Linked DNA regions of Homo sapiens: all the other regions are reported to be linked to region 3. The links are microRNA targets in miRTarBase. Many come from high-throughput screens and were not tested one by one. Region 3 holds a microRNA gene; each other region holds the end of a gene's coding sequence.
The links. Region 3 holds the annotated microRNA hsa-miR-548g-5p (UGCAAAAGUAAUUGCAGUUUUUG, at 2,437-2,459, opposite strand). A microRNA usually pairs through its seed, bases 2 to 8, with sites in the 3' UTR of a target mRNA and lowers its output. Matches are read on the target gene's strand: a 7mer-m8 pairs with bases 2 to 8, a 7mer-A1 pairs with bases 2 to 7 and ends in A, and an 8mer does both.

Region 1 (4,246 bases), not on the chromosome of region 3:
TAACAGCCATTTGACTGTAATATGAGCCAGTCAAGAATGTAGACACTTGGAACTAGAAAGGGCCTTGATGGTCATCTAACCCAGTTACCCAGTAACCACTGAATCCTGGGCATGTGATAACCCCACCTTATTCCATCCTGGAGCAGCTCTGGCTGTAAGAAGTGTAGAGCTGGAGGGGAACTCAGAAACTACCATATTCAAAAGATAAAGAAGTGAAGTGATTGGCCCAAGGTTGCTCAAAAACTAGCAGCAAAGTTGGAAAATAGAAGAGAAACTAATACGACTAACTGCCAAGTCCATCCAGTCCTCGCCACCATCCTACAGAGTGGAAGTATTACCATGTTGAAATTTACGGTAAAGGATGTGGAGGCTAAGAGGTATTGAGTGGCTTGTTTGGGGTTGCACAGTTGATAAGTGGCAGAGCCAGGATAGGAGGAAATTGATCTCTTTCCACTTGCCAACACCCTGTGCCATCCCTGCATAAGATCACAGGCTTCCTGAGACCCTGGAAAATGCTCCTGTCATTTCCTAAGCAGACCCTGCTCCAGGATCTCTTTTGAAATCCCCCCCTCTTTCTCACTTCCATTTTTCTTGCTTTTCAGGAGAGAAGTATGAGCTCCATGCAGGGACTGAGTCCACCCCAAGTGTCGTCGTGCACGTGTGCGACAGTGACATAGAGGAAGAAGAGGACCCAAAGACTTCCCCAAAGCCAAAAATCATCCAAACTCGGCGTCCTGGCCTGCCACCCTCCGTGTCCAACTGAGCTGCCTGCTCCTTCTCGATAATAGCCGTCTCCTCTTTATCATGCTTTTTCCCCCTGTTGTTTGTCAAAAAAAATTGCCTTTAAATTCCTGGGTGTTTGGTTGTTTGAGATTCCTTCCTTGTTATCAAGCCTCTCGGACAAAAGGGCTAGGAAAAGGTGATATGTCTCCTGATCATATCATACCCATTAAGTATAACCCATTATTTAGAAGGTTCTAGGGAAAAAAGTAGTATTTTCTTATTAAACAATCAGCACAGCCTATATCTTTGTTCTCTCATGTTGATCCAAGCCAGAGACATCAGTAACAAATAGCACCTGTGTTGTTTGTGAGCTGTTTCAGTCCCAGTCCTGATGTGTGTGCGTTGTTCTCTCCTGGCCACTTAAATAGGACCATATGTAAACTTGACTTTGACTGCATGAGATATCCCTATCTGGTCTCACTCAGTCCTCTGCATCCCAACATTCCCAGGACATGCATGATCACCAGCATTTATTTTCATTATTTGAGGATATCTTATAACTCACAGATTGTCAGCATCCAGCCATGTCCTATCTAGATTAGGAAAATGATCAGAATATTCCAGCTCAACAAGTCTGGGTATATTCACTATTGTGAGTCAATACACCATAGCTCTGTTGAAATTCCTGGAGGCAAAATTGACCTTGGCCCCAAAGATATTCCTCAATAGATTTCAAACACCACTCCCCTGTAGAACTCTCCCAGCCTCGTTGGGGAGGCTTGTCCAGGGTGATAGAGACTGATTTCAGACAAACCTATTTATTACAAAAGTTTCATGGTGTCTGAATGATTGTTTTCTCTCTTTGTATATTTGTACAAATGTTTCAGCTGTGCTTTTAAAAAATCTGGATGTTTTTTATTTAGTGATTGTTCGACAATTAGCTGCTTCAAAACATAATGTGCATTGCTTATGAATGCCTTCATATACTAATACAGATACTCTGATAATATTACACTCTAATAAGGATAATGCTGAATTTTGAAAGGACACAAAACATCTAATGCCAATATATACATGATTAGCCAACATCTTTGCTATCAAGACCACTTGTTTTTAAATAAAGATGCAAGTGTCAGTTGTAGATTATTGGGATGAAGCTAAATCCCCAGAATGCAGCAGCAGCTGAGCATGTTAAAATGGGGAAGGATGATAGCTACATGTATGCCGGTCCTACTCACGCGACACCCGTGTGCTCAAAAAAGTTATTTGTTTTTGTTACGTGTGATTTTTCTATTTCTCTAGCCCAAAGTGCATTACAGAAGATACACCTATAGAACCATTACCTTCTGCTATGTGTGCCAGGCCTCATCTACTCCTGTACATTAATGAATTACTTTAGATGCAAACGCAGATTACAATGGAGTGGGGAAGTACTTTCATTACCCAAGCCTCAGAAAAACACACAAGAACAATAACACAGCAAACAGATTGAGGGATTGTTGTGGTTTTTGACTAAGGTGTATGTTAGTTTCATCAGAAACTTAAAACATAGACTGATCACTCAGAAATTAAAGTCCGTTTTACTGTGAATATAGCAATATAGTACTGGACACAGTACTGGTGAAACTGAGGAGAGCATTGCTTGTAAAATCCTGAGTTTCCATAAGGAAAATGAAAACTCCTTTTAAAAATAAAATCTGAGGAGTGTACAATAAGCATATGCTTTGACTTTCCTTTGCTGTGGAGGTTTTTGGTTTTTCATTGATGATAAACGACTACAGACTTAGTAGTGGAGAAATGGTGTCCTCTAGTGGAAGAAATAGTAGGCTCCGCTATTCAGATGCAGAGCACTGCAGCATCCAGCCTTTCAAAGCTGACTCTTCTCAATCATCTGTGGGTCATTTGACTTGATTTTTTAAGCTACCCTGAATTTCCAGAATGCAGGTTCTAAAGAAATCTAGATGAGAGAAAGTATTTGAAAATGATTTTTAAATGTTTTTTAAAAGACACATCTGACATTTTTAACAACTTAGTAAAAGTTGAAATGACCATTCTGTGTAGTCATAAAAGAAACACAATGAAGTGTATGGCCTCTGGAGTTAGTCTTAGTAAAACTTATTGCTCTGTGTCAATGTTAACCTGTCTCAGATCAAGTAATTCTTTCACTAGGTTGGGTTTGGGGAGGGGGGAAAAGAGGGGCTTTTCCTAGGAGAACGATAAGAAATGGAAAGACTCCTTGAAGTGTTGCAAGGGAACCTCCTAGCACTGTGAAAGTCAGAATCGCCTCAGCATTTCCATGACGCACATTATGCAAATCTCTTTAGCACTATTTTAAGTTTGAAAACTTTAACAATGAAGGGGAAGGGGAAGATTTCCACCAACTGAATCATTTGTGCACGTGTATAGCTCAAAGAGCTTAGACTTCAAATATATCTGGTGAATGACTCTTTGTCCATGTGGTTTAATTTCTGTGTTGTCGACCTGAGTTGAATATTCTTGAGGGGTAATTGTGGGGGACTGCATTTCAACCTAGAGTTTTTCTAAGAAGTCCCCAACGTATGGGGTTAACCCATATACCTAGGCTCTTCCTGAAAGTGGGGGAAGCTGGTTGGCAGCCCTCTCTTGGGGGAAGGGGAATTTGAGCAGGGCCTGGAGGGCAGGGTTGGCCTCTGATAAGAGGAACTGGGAGAGCTCCCTGTTTTATTGCCATGTTTCAACATCTTGGTCCTAAAAGCCATTTCAAGTGTACTAAAAACCTCTTTTAATGTCTTCCCACTCTATTCTCTTGTTAAAAGCACTATAAGAGACCTGAGTTAGCAAAAAAATTATTATTCAGGAGAAAAGCACTATCATAATCTAAATGATTAATACATTAAATGCCATTAAAATGAAGAGCTTCTGTTCATCAGATGGGTATTAGGAGAATGAAAAGGGACAGCATCAGACTGGAAAAGGATATTTGAGACACATGTAGTTGTAAAATAAATTATATCCAAAATGTAAAAAGAAAACCCTACAAATAAGGAAAACAGACAATCCATTTCTTTGATCATCAAAAAATTTCAAAGGCACTTCATACAGGCAATTCACATACACACAGACATACACAAAATACCCAGATGACCCATTAGCATTCAAAAGATGCTCAATTTTATTGCTTATCTGACAAAAGCAAATGATAATCTCAGAGCTACTACACAGATCTATCAGAATGACTAAAATTAAGTCTGGAGAAATAAAAAGTTCTGGTAAGGATATGAAGGAAGGGGAACTGTCATGCACCACTGGTGGAGTGTCAACTGGTGCTCACTTCACAGCACTGTTTGGTAATATCTGCTAAAGCTAACATGCCTCTGGGAGCAATTCACTCCAGGGCATGCACCTAGCAGATACAAGTGCACACATCTATCAAAATACTTGTACAATAATGTCCCTAGCAAAGTTGTTCATCATAGCCATTAACTGGATACAGCCCAAATGTCCTTCAACTATAGAATAAACTGTGCTATCCTCACACAAAGGA
Region 2 (4,246 bases), not on the chromosome of region 3:
GCTCTAAGCTGTCATTTTGTTCCCACAGTTACCTAGCATCACGGATGCCCAATTTATGGCCCAGGAAGGCTGACCCAGGCTAAGGGCAGTCTCACTCCACAGCCATGCAATGGACAGTCTGAATGTTTCCCTACCCCAGACCTTCACTGACCTCTACTATTTCCTCCTCTGATATAAAGAAAACACTTTAATTTTCTCCTGCATCCTACATCTCCTCCTAAAATTTTGGCCCTAATTGTCATCAAAACCTTGTAGGATTCTGAATTTTTTGTTTCTTCCTGAATCTTAGCCAGTTCTCTCAGAGCCAATCCTGGATTTATAAGGAATTTTCACCTATTTTTTTTTTTTTTTTATTTTTTGAGACGGAGTCTTGCTCTGTCGCCCAGGCTGGAGTGCAGTGGCACGATCTTGGCTCACTGCAAGCTCCACCTCCCAGGTTCACGCCATTCTCCTGCCTCAGCCTCCCAAGTAGCTAGGACTACAGGTACCCGCCACCACCCCCGGCTAATTTTTTTTTGTATTTTTAGTAGAGATGGGGTTTCACCATGTTAGCCAGGATGGTCTCGATCTTCTGACCTTGGGATCTGGCCACCTCAGCCTCCCAAAATGCTGGGATTACAGGTGTGAGCCACCACACCCATCCTCGCCCAGTTATTAAATACCTTCCCTCTTCAAGTCCTAACCTTGCAGGCTAATTCCTCCCTGGAAGAAGAGGATTCCAATGCTCCTGAGCATAAAAAATTCAGGTCCTTGAATGACGTGGACCCATTCTCCAGCTCTCTGGTGGTAGAGGCCTGAGGCCTAATTTATTCAGCACCTCCATCCTTCAGTCAGAACAGATGAGGACAATACAGGCAGCTGTGCCTCAGGCTGCCAGGAGCAAAAGGGCCATCACCAGCTGGGCCACAGCCTGGCGGAGCCTCCATGTGGGCTTCCTGCTAAAGTCCTAGTGGCTGCTCCTCCCGCAGTCAGGGAGAACAGATCCAGGGCCTCCCACCCAGTCTCGCTGGCTGTCAGTTTGAGAACCTCAACAAATTACAGAGTTGTTTTTGCAACTACAACAGATCGGTGCTTTCTGGAGCATGGATGGCTTACAGACTTTCTAAATCCTGAGACTGTAGAAATCCCCTCCTCAGTCATGGGTCGTCGGGCTGGTGGAGTAAAGGGAGGGTAAGAGAGCTGGGACTCAAAGACCAGCAACTCATCAACTGTGAGTATGTGTGTGCTTGCTTAGGGGGGTGGAGTCCCCCTGGGTCCCCGGTGGCATTCAGGGGAAGACTGTACTGCAGGACCTAAGGAAGGATGACAGGAGCTGGGCGTCCACAGGGCAAGGGAAATCTCAAAAGTTGTTGGTTTCCAGAGTAAATAGCTATCTTATGCAAATATGTTCTAATTATTATTTTTTTTTCAAGTTGTTGTTTCTGAGTTCCAGCTGACAAATTCCACCATACAGACCAGGCGTAGGTGCAGATCAGGAAAGGAATCTTAGAACTCAGTGGATGTAAGCCCTGCCCAGCAGACCAGCCCCTTCTACCACTGACTTCCATTTCAGACCCTTCTCCACAGGAAGGAACTGATGGCCTCCTAAACAAGCAGCCATCAGCTTGGCCTTGCTACCCTTGAGAGAAGGACCCAGTAACCATTATCAAACACAATGAAAAGCAGAGGAGGGTTCTGACCAAGAACTGCTCGCTTTGTATCTCCAAACGATGCAGTGCAAATCCAGTGGCAAATGCAGGAGAGGCAACCACAAGCACATGGCCAGCCAGAGTCCTAAAATCAGAACAACAAAGTAAAAGGGTAGAAGGGGAAATATGCTGGCTAAAAAAAGAGCCTTTTTCTTTGGGACAGGTCCCTGTATGGTAAAGCAAAGAGCTAGACTTTTGGCATATAATGACATCTACTTCTGAAAAGGAAGACTTAACCAAAAAAGCTTAAGGGCCCAGAAGAACAAAGTTACTGTTTTACTTCTCAAGCAGGTGAGAACCAAAGAGGACAAAACCATCATCCTTCAGGCCTGCTACTCTACTAATCTCAGATGAGCAATTCAGAGGGACTTAAAAACCTTCGGGTAGGAGCAGAGCGCAAGGAAACAGCCAACTTTCCCCCAAGAGCACATCCCAAACTGCCTGCCCCAAGGGCTCATCTAACGGTGGAATCACACATATGCCCCTCCATGGAACTCATTCACATAACAGAAAGACACCTGCGGCCTGCAAGTCAAAAGACAACTGCAGGCTACAAGTCCAATACTGCTCAGAACCTAAACTGGGGGAGAGAGGGGTTGACAGGTGTGGGTAGAGCTCTTAACTGGCTGACCCTGGGGGTCTATAATTCCTTTTCCTTCTTTTTTTTTCCTCCCTTTTCATTACCCACAGTATAATGCTTTTTAACTATCTATCCACTTGACAGCCCAGGATTGCCGCAGTCCATCAGTCCATCTCTCATGTAAGGTCTTGTTCAGGGTTGGAAGCACAGACAGGATGCCTCGGGAAGACTCTCTCACCTCAGAACACTCAATCCAAAGAATGCCCAATATACCACCAGGCACAGTAAACTCAAACAACAGAAGCACCGAAGTTCAACTCAGATATCATTCTTGCCTATCATTGAAAAGACACTAAGTGGAATGGCCTGGGGCTTATATTTGGATGGAAAAACAGACTCTGAAAGAATGTACTGGAAATATGCTTGAAGTTCAGCTTCATGAAACGATTCCCCTCAAGTCAGGTACCCTGAGAGCCTGTTTCTCTCAGCTCTACCATGCTGCCAGTGGGAACCAATGGGCTGGACAGTGGTGCTTCAGGGTAAACAGAGGCTTCCTATGTCTGTTTACAAGCCCAGAATGCCCTTGAGAGGAGCCAGGCTAAGAAAGGTGTGATGAGTCAGTGGACTTCAGAGCACCAAGGTGGTTTGGACTCCCGGTCAGGTATGTACTACACAGGCAGTGACTCAAGAAGGCAAACTGCTCATGGGGCCAGGGGCCCAGTACCAGCTCCAGGCACTGAGGGAAGAGAAGAAGGTGCAAAGAGGGAGGACTATAAGACAAAGAAATGAAGCAGGAGAGTAAAATTCTTTTCATAAAAAAATTAGCCTGATAGATAACAAATATACAAAGTTAAAATTTGTTAAACACACTGATACTAGGAGAAAAGACAAATTGGTATTTGTTCCCACGTAAGTGCTAACACGAACATGGACATGGACGAGACATGAACTGCTGCCTTGGGCAGCAAACAGAGACACCTGGGCAGAGGAATAGACACAGCCAGTGCGTGAACTGCTCCTCAACACAACGCCTGACAAACAAATATACACACATTTTTTAATTGAGGAACCAAAGGAGAAGAGGAAAGGAGAGAAAATCTTAAAACTCAGCCCTGGGCTGAGGAGGCGCCACACAGCACTGAGTCTGCCACAGAGGGCGATGGGGTGACTGGCCAGGAACTCCTAGAGCAGCTTCTGGTAACAGTGGGTGCAAAGCAATGAAAGACATACTGGCCACTGGAAACATGTTTCTTCTTACTTTGGGGGTGGGGCAGAGGCAGGAAATACAAAAGCCCCTGCCTCGTGGGCACAGCGCCACCAACACTACACTCTGAGTATCTCCAGGCAGTTGTTGTAGCAGATGGCGATCCAGTCGGGCTGAGTTGATGCCCACTGCACATTGTTGATCTCTCCTTCAGCTGTGTAGGCCAGGATAGGGTCCTCAATGGCTCGGGGCATTTGCTGGATGTCCCAGATGAGAGCCTGGTGGTCATCCGCTAGGGACAAAGAAAGCCAGCAAGCAAGGTCACAAGTGAGGCAATGCGGATGATGATCCCTGCATTTCAGGAGCAAGTCACAGTTTACAAAGCACCCCCGTGATGGCGGTTCTATTTTAAGCCCCCATTTTATCGATGAGGAAATCGAGATTCAGAAATGTTAAGGCACTTGTTCCAAATCACACAGCTATTCAGCCAAGTGAGTGGCAGAGCCAGAACTCAAATCTAGGCCCTGACTCCATCTCCCAGATGTCCCCAGGCTCTATCCACTGCACTAATGAGTCCTTCTCATCTGGGTCAGGTATCAGGAGTGGACAAGGGGATACCAAACATGTCATTTGCAGCCACTTAAAATACTTGAGTGGTTACAAAGATCATTCTCTGATCATTCAATATAATGAGAGCGTTTCTTCCCTGTTTGATGGACATTTATGCTTCAGTGAGGTGTTATATAGAAGACTGATAAAGTAGTGCTGATATGT
Region 3 (4,246 bases):
CAAAGTGTTGCATTGCTATGACACAAAGAGACAAGGAGGGAAGAGAACTTAGAAATCACCTAATAAAATGCGCTCCCAGGAAGAAGATGGCATCATATAGCGTAGGAACCAACGTGCTCAAAGCTGAGCTGGAACAATGCATCAGTCAAAGAGTAGACAAACAGAAATGCAGGGTGTGGAAGAGGGAGGAGGAGAAGACAAAAATTTAAAAAAACAGAACTCTAAAATGCCACCATAGTAAGTGTATTAAAATAAAAATTTAAAGCCTCTAACTATGGTAGAATAACCAGATGTGAACTTGTCTGTTTGCCTTACAAAAATAGGAAACAGGATAAAACGTAGAACTAATAAATTGTCAGATATTTTACCATAAGCAGCACAGAACTATGAACTCTAAGAGAAGAGAGAAAATTGATGTAAGTTCGGTTATTACTCTGACTTTCTGTCTGAAGGGATTTTCTTGAACTTGATGCAGAGAGGTATCCAAAGCACAGCATGACAATCTCCTTGATATGAGGAGATAGAGATAGAATTTCAGACAGGTGGGTTTGGCTGGAAAATTGCAGAGCATGTATTAGAAAGAAGTATGATGTACAGACAATGGCTTTTATCTGCTTCAATCTGTTGCACAATGTAAACCACACATGCCGTGGATGAACATCTAGTAATAGTGTATAGAAAATCAAAGATAACTATGTTCACAGATTTCTCATTAGAAAGTATGCCAGGACGGGGCATGGTGGCTCATGCCTGAAATCCCAGCACTTTGGGAGGCCAAGACAGGAGGAATGCTTGACCCCAGGTGTTTGCGACCAGCCTGGCCAATATAGTGAGTCCCAGTCTCTAAAAAAAAAAAAAAAAAAAAAAAAAATTATATATATAGCCAGGCATTGTGGTTTGCGCCTGTAGTCTTGGTTGCTCAGGAGGCTGAGGTGGGAGGATGGCTTGAGTGTGAGAGGTCAAGCAGTGAGCTGTGTTCATGATGCTGCCCTTCAGCCTGTCTGAGATTGAGACTCTGTCTCAAAAAAAAAAAAAAAGAAAGAAAGAAGAGAAAAGAAAAGAAAGCAAAAAGAAAGAAAAAAAAGGAAACTATGCCAGGCAGTAGACAATAAAATATCTTTGAAGTAGGAAGGAAAAATAACCATCAATCTAGAATTTTATATAGAGTAAAATATCTACAACAAATCAAGGTAAAACTGATACTTTTCCCAACAACAAAAGTTAGAGGAATTTATCACTAACTAAATTGAACTAGATGAACTATTACAGTTTTTAAGCAAGGAAGCTGTTATTTGATGGAAGCTAAGGTATACATAATCAAACAATGATTACCAATGTAGAAGTTTCCTTTCATTTTCTGAAACCGTTTTTGGGACATAACACGCTGCTTATACTGTGTGTTTATATGGTACAGTATTATGTTAAAATAAACTAATAACATAAGGATATATATTGTGAACACAAAACAACCATAAAAATAGTTATAGTTGATTAACAGTATTTAAAATGAAATACAAAAATAATAAAAGACTGACAAAGAGCAAGTAAAAAGCAACAACAAAAATAGATGGAATAAGTAATAAGCAAGGACAAAAAAAAAGAACTATTGTTCCTTCTTTCTTTTCCTTTCCTTCTGTGTCACTTTCAGCATAGGTAGTTAAATAATGCAGTAAAGTAACAGAGAAAATAAATTATGTAATAGGGTTCCATGGTTGTTTGTGTTTATTGGAAAGTCACTGCTTGTTTGCAATTGAATTGAGTTCTGGTTTTGAATGGAAAGTGTAGCCTCTTGGAGTTGTCAACCTTGCTCACTCATTTATAGACATAAAATGCTTATCTTGTACTCAGAGTCTTGCTGAACTTTCAAGCACTGTGGGTCCACAAGAATTCTGCGTTCACGTGGCATCACAAACGCTGTATGTGAATAGAACAGTAAGAAACTGAACATGTATATCACAGACATCTCTGCTCACACTTGTACTCAAGTGTCCCATCATACTGCACTTTTAAAACACAGAGGTAAAATTATTTAAAAATTTAAGGCAGTAATAAGAGAGTGTTAAATCAAAAACAGGGCACTTCTGAGCATGAAATCTTGTATGACTGTACAAGGTACAGTGCATGAAGCTGGCCCTACATGAACAAAACGAATTATTTCCTTCTAAGTTCTAGAACAAAGTAGAGATATCCAGTCTAACCACTGAAATTCAATATTGCATCAACATTCTTGCCAATGCAATATGAGAAAGATAAAAATTAATACAACACATGCCATTAGTAACAACGTTAAAAACATGAACACAGGAATAAACTTAGCATAATGTATGCCATACCTGTTTACTGAAATCTTCAAAACTTTGCTGAGAAAAATAAAACAAGATCGAAATATTAAGATTGGTGTGAAAGTAATTGCAGTTTTTACGATTGAAAGTAACGCAAAAACTGCAATTACTTTTGCACTAACCTAATATATTGCAATGTATAATGTGATTACAGATTGGAAGGCTTAATGTTGTTATGATAGTATCTCTCCCCAAATTGATCTATATGTTCAATGCATATTTAAAAAACAATTGTAGCAAAGTTCTTTGTAGAAATTGTTAAGCTAATTCTAAATTTTATATGGAAATCCAAAGGACATATTATATACAAAATGATTTCTAGGAAGAAGAACAAAATTAGATGAGCAGCACCTTTTTCTTCCAAGACTCCCTATATACTCCTTTTAGGCACCAGTCATAGAGGTAGTATGGCTGAGGTTTACAACTGGATGTATAGATAATGGAACAGAATAGAAAATCCAGAAACATGTCATTTTTTATGTGCTTAAATTTTTGAAAGTATTTCCATGGTTATTCAATGAGAAAAATTATAGTCTTTTAAACAATTTTATCCCAGAGGGAATGTAAGTATATTTAAAGACAAAAAAGAAACCTTAACTTATAACATGTCTGCACATGCTCATATACAAGAGGTATACAAGAATAGATGGAAGAGGAGTAAGATAAAAATACCAATTAAGGCCTTTGGACTAACAAGTGATGGAGTCTTTTTTTCCTGCCACTAACACTTTTCGTATAACTTTTTCCCCTAGAAATTGTAACTAGCCACAATTTGAAAATTAGAGATTGACAGTGAAGTGTATTAGTCAGTTTTCATACTGCTGATAAAGACATACCCAAGACTGTGTACTTTATAAAAAAGAAGAGGTTTAATGGACTCACAGTTCCAGGTGGCTAGGGAGGACTCACGAACATGGAGAAGGCTAAAGGCACGTCTTACATGGTGGCAGACAAGAGAGAATGTAGACAGACAAGTCTACATTGTCTTGGCAGACAAGTGAAAGAGGAAATAAATCTTCAGATCTCGTGAGACTTATTCACTAACAGGAGAACAGTATAGGAGAAACCATCTCCATGATTCAATTATCTGCCATGAGTCCCTCCCACAACACGTGAGAATTATGGGAGCTACAATTCAAGATGAGATTTGGGTGGGGATGCAGTCAAACCATATTAGTAAGTCTCCCCTGCATTATGGTGTACTGTTAGTGTGTCACTCATATCATATCAGATTCCTTAAACATTTGTTTGCATAAAGTCCCCATGTAATTCTATTCCCCATAGTAAGTACCTGCTTCTCTAGCACCATGTACTATGTACTATGCACAAGTAGCCAGAATCAGATTTGTCTACAGAATTGGAGAACTATTATCTCCGAACTTTTGTTCTCCTGCTAACAGCTCTTAAACATTGAGAGATGTGTGTAGAGGCTTAAATACTCCAAGCGCTTTTTCTCTAATCAGGAATAGACTATTTTTGAAGGATTGAGTAAAAGCTGTTCTTTGCAGGACTTTTCTATTATCATACTCATTTTTGGACTCCTCTCATGTCCTGTCTCATTTCCCCATGTGGTTATCAACTTGTCTAGGGATAATGTAAAATAACACATATCATGCTGGTCTCAGGACAAAACTCCATTTATTACAGTTGGTGCAAAACAGTCAGATTTTATGCCTATGATGCTGGTATAATTATTATACCATGATATTGACCCATTTCACTCCAAAACCCCTTCTAGTTTGTATAATAATTTATACAGTCATCATTTTATAATGTGAAATAGTCACAACCACAACCACATTCTACCCAGGAGAGAGAGTGTAGAAAAATCTATGATAATTTAGGAAAGAAAGAGTCAGACAAAGCAGGTGCTCTTGAAGTTTAAAAACAAAACACATTTTGAA

Region 1: miRTarBase lists RCAN2 as a target of hsa-miR-548g-5p. The part of its 3' UTR that is shown has no 7-base or 8-base seed match.
Region 2: the mRNA of DCAF7 is a reported target of hsa-miR-548g-5p. Seed matches in the 3' UTR shown: 7mer-m8 at 880-886.

What each region holds. Positions count from the first base shown.
Region 1 is chr6:46,219,658-46,223,903 of GRCh38, reverse strand. It overlaps RCAN2 (regulator of calcineurin 2), which reads left to right. Exons shown (of 5, transcript NM_001251974.2): 5 at 603-3,168. The coding sequence ends at 763. All of the region lies in intron 1 of LOC105375079 (a long non-coding RNA gene), which reads right to left. Among named protein-coding and RNA genes, the nearest start is that of ENPP5, 51 kb to the right of the region's middle.
Region 2 is chr17:63,588,518-63,592,763 of GRCh38, reverse strand. It overlaps DCAF7 (DDB1 and CUL4 associated factor 7), which reads right to left. Exons shown (of 7, transcript NM_005828.5): 7 at 1-3,764. The coding sequence ends at 3,592. Among named protein-coding and RNA genes, the nearest start is that of TACO1, 10 kb to the left of the region's middle.
Region 3 is chr21:18,683,699-18,687,944 of GRCh38, forward strand. It overlaps MIR548X (microRNA 548x), which reads right to left and starts at 2,466; the gene lies at 2,392-2,466. All of the region lies in intron 2 of MIR548XHG (MIR548X host gene), which reads right to left.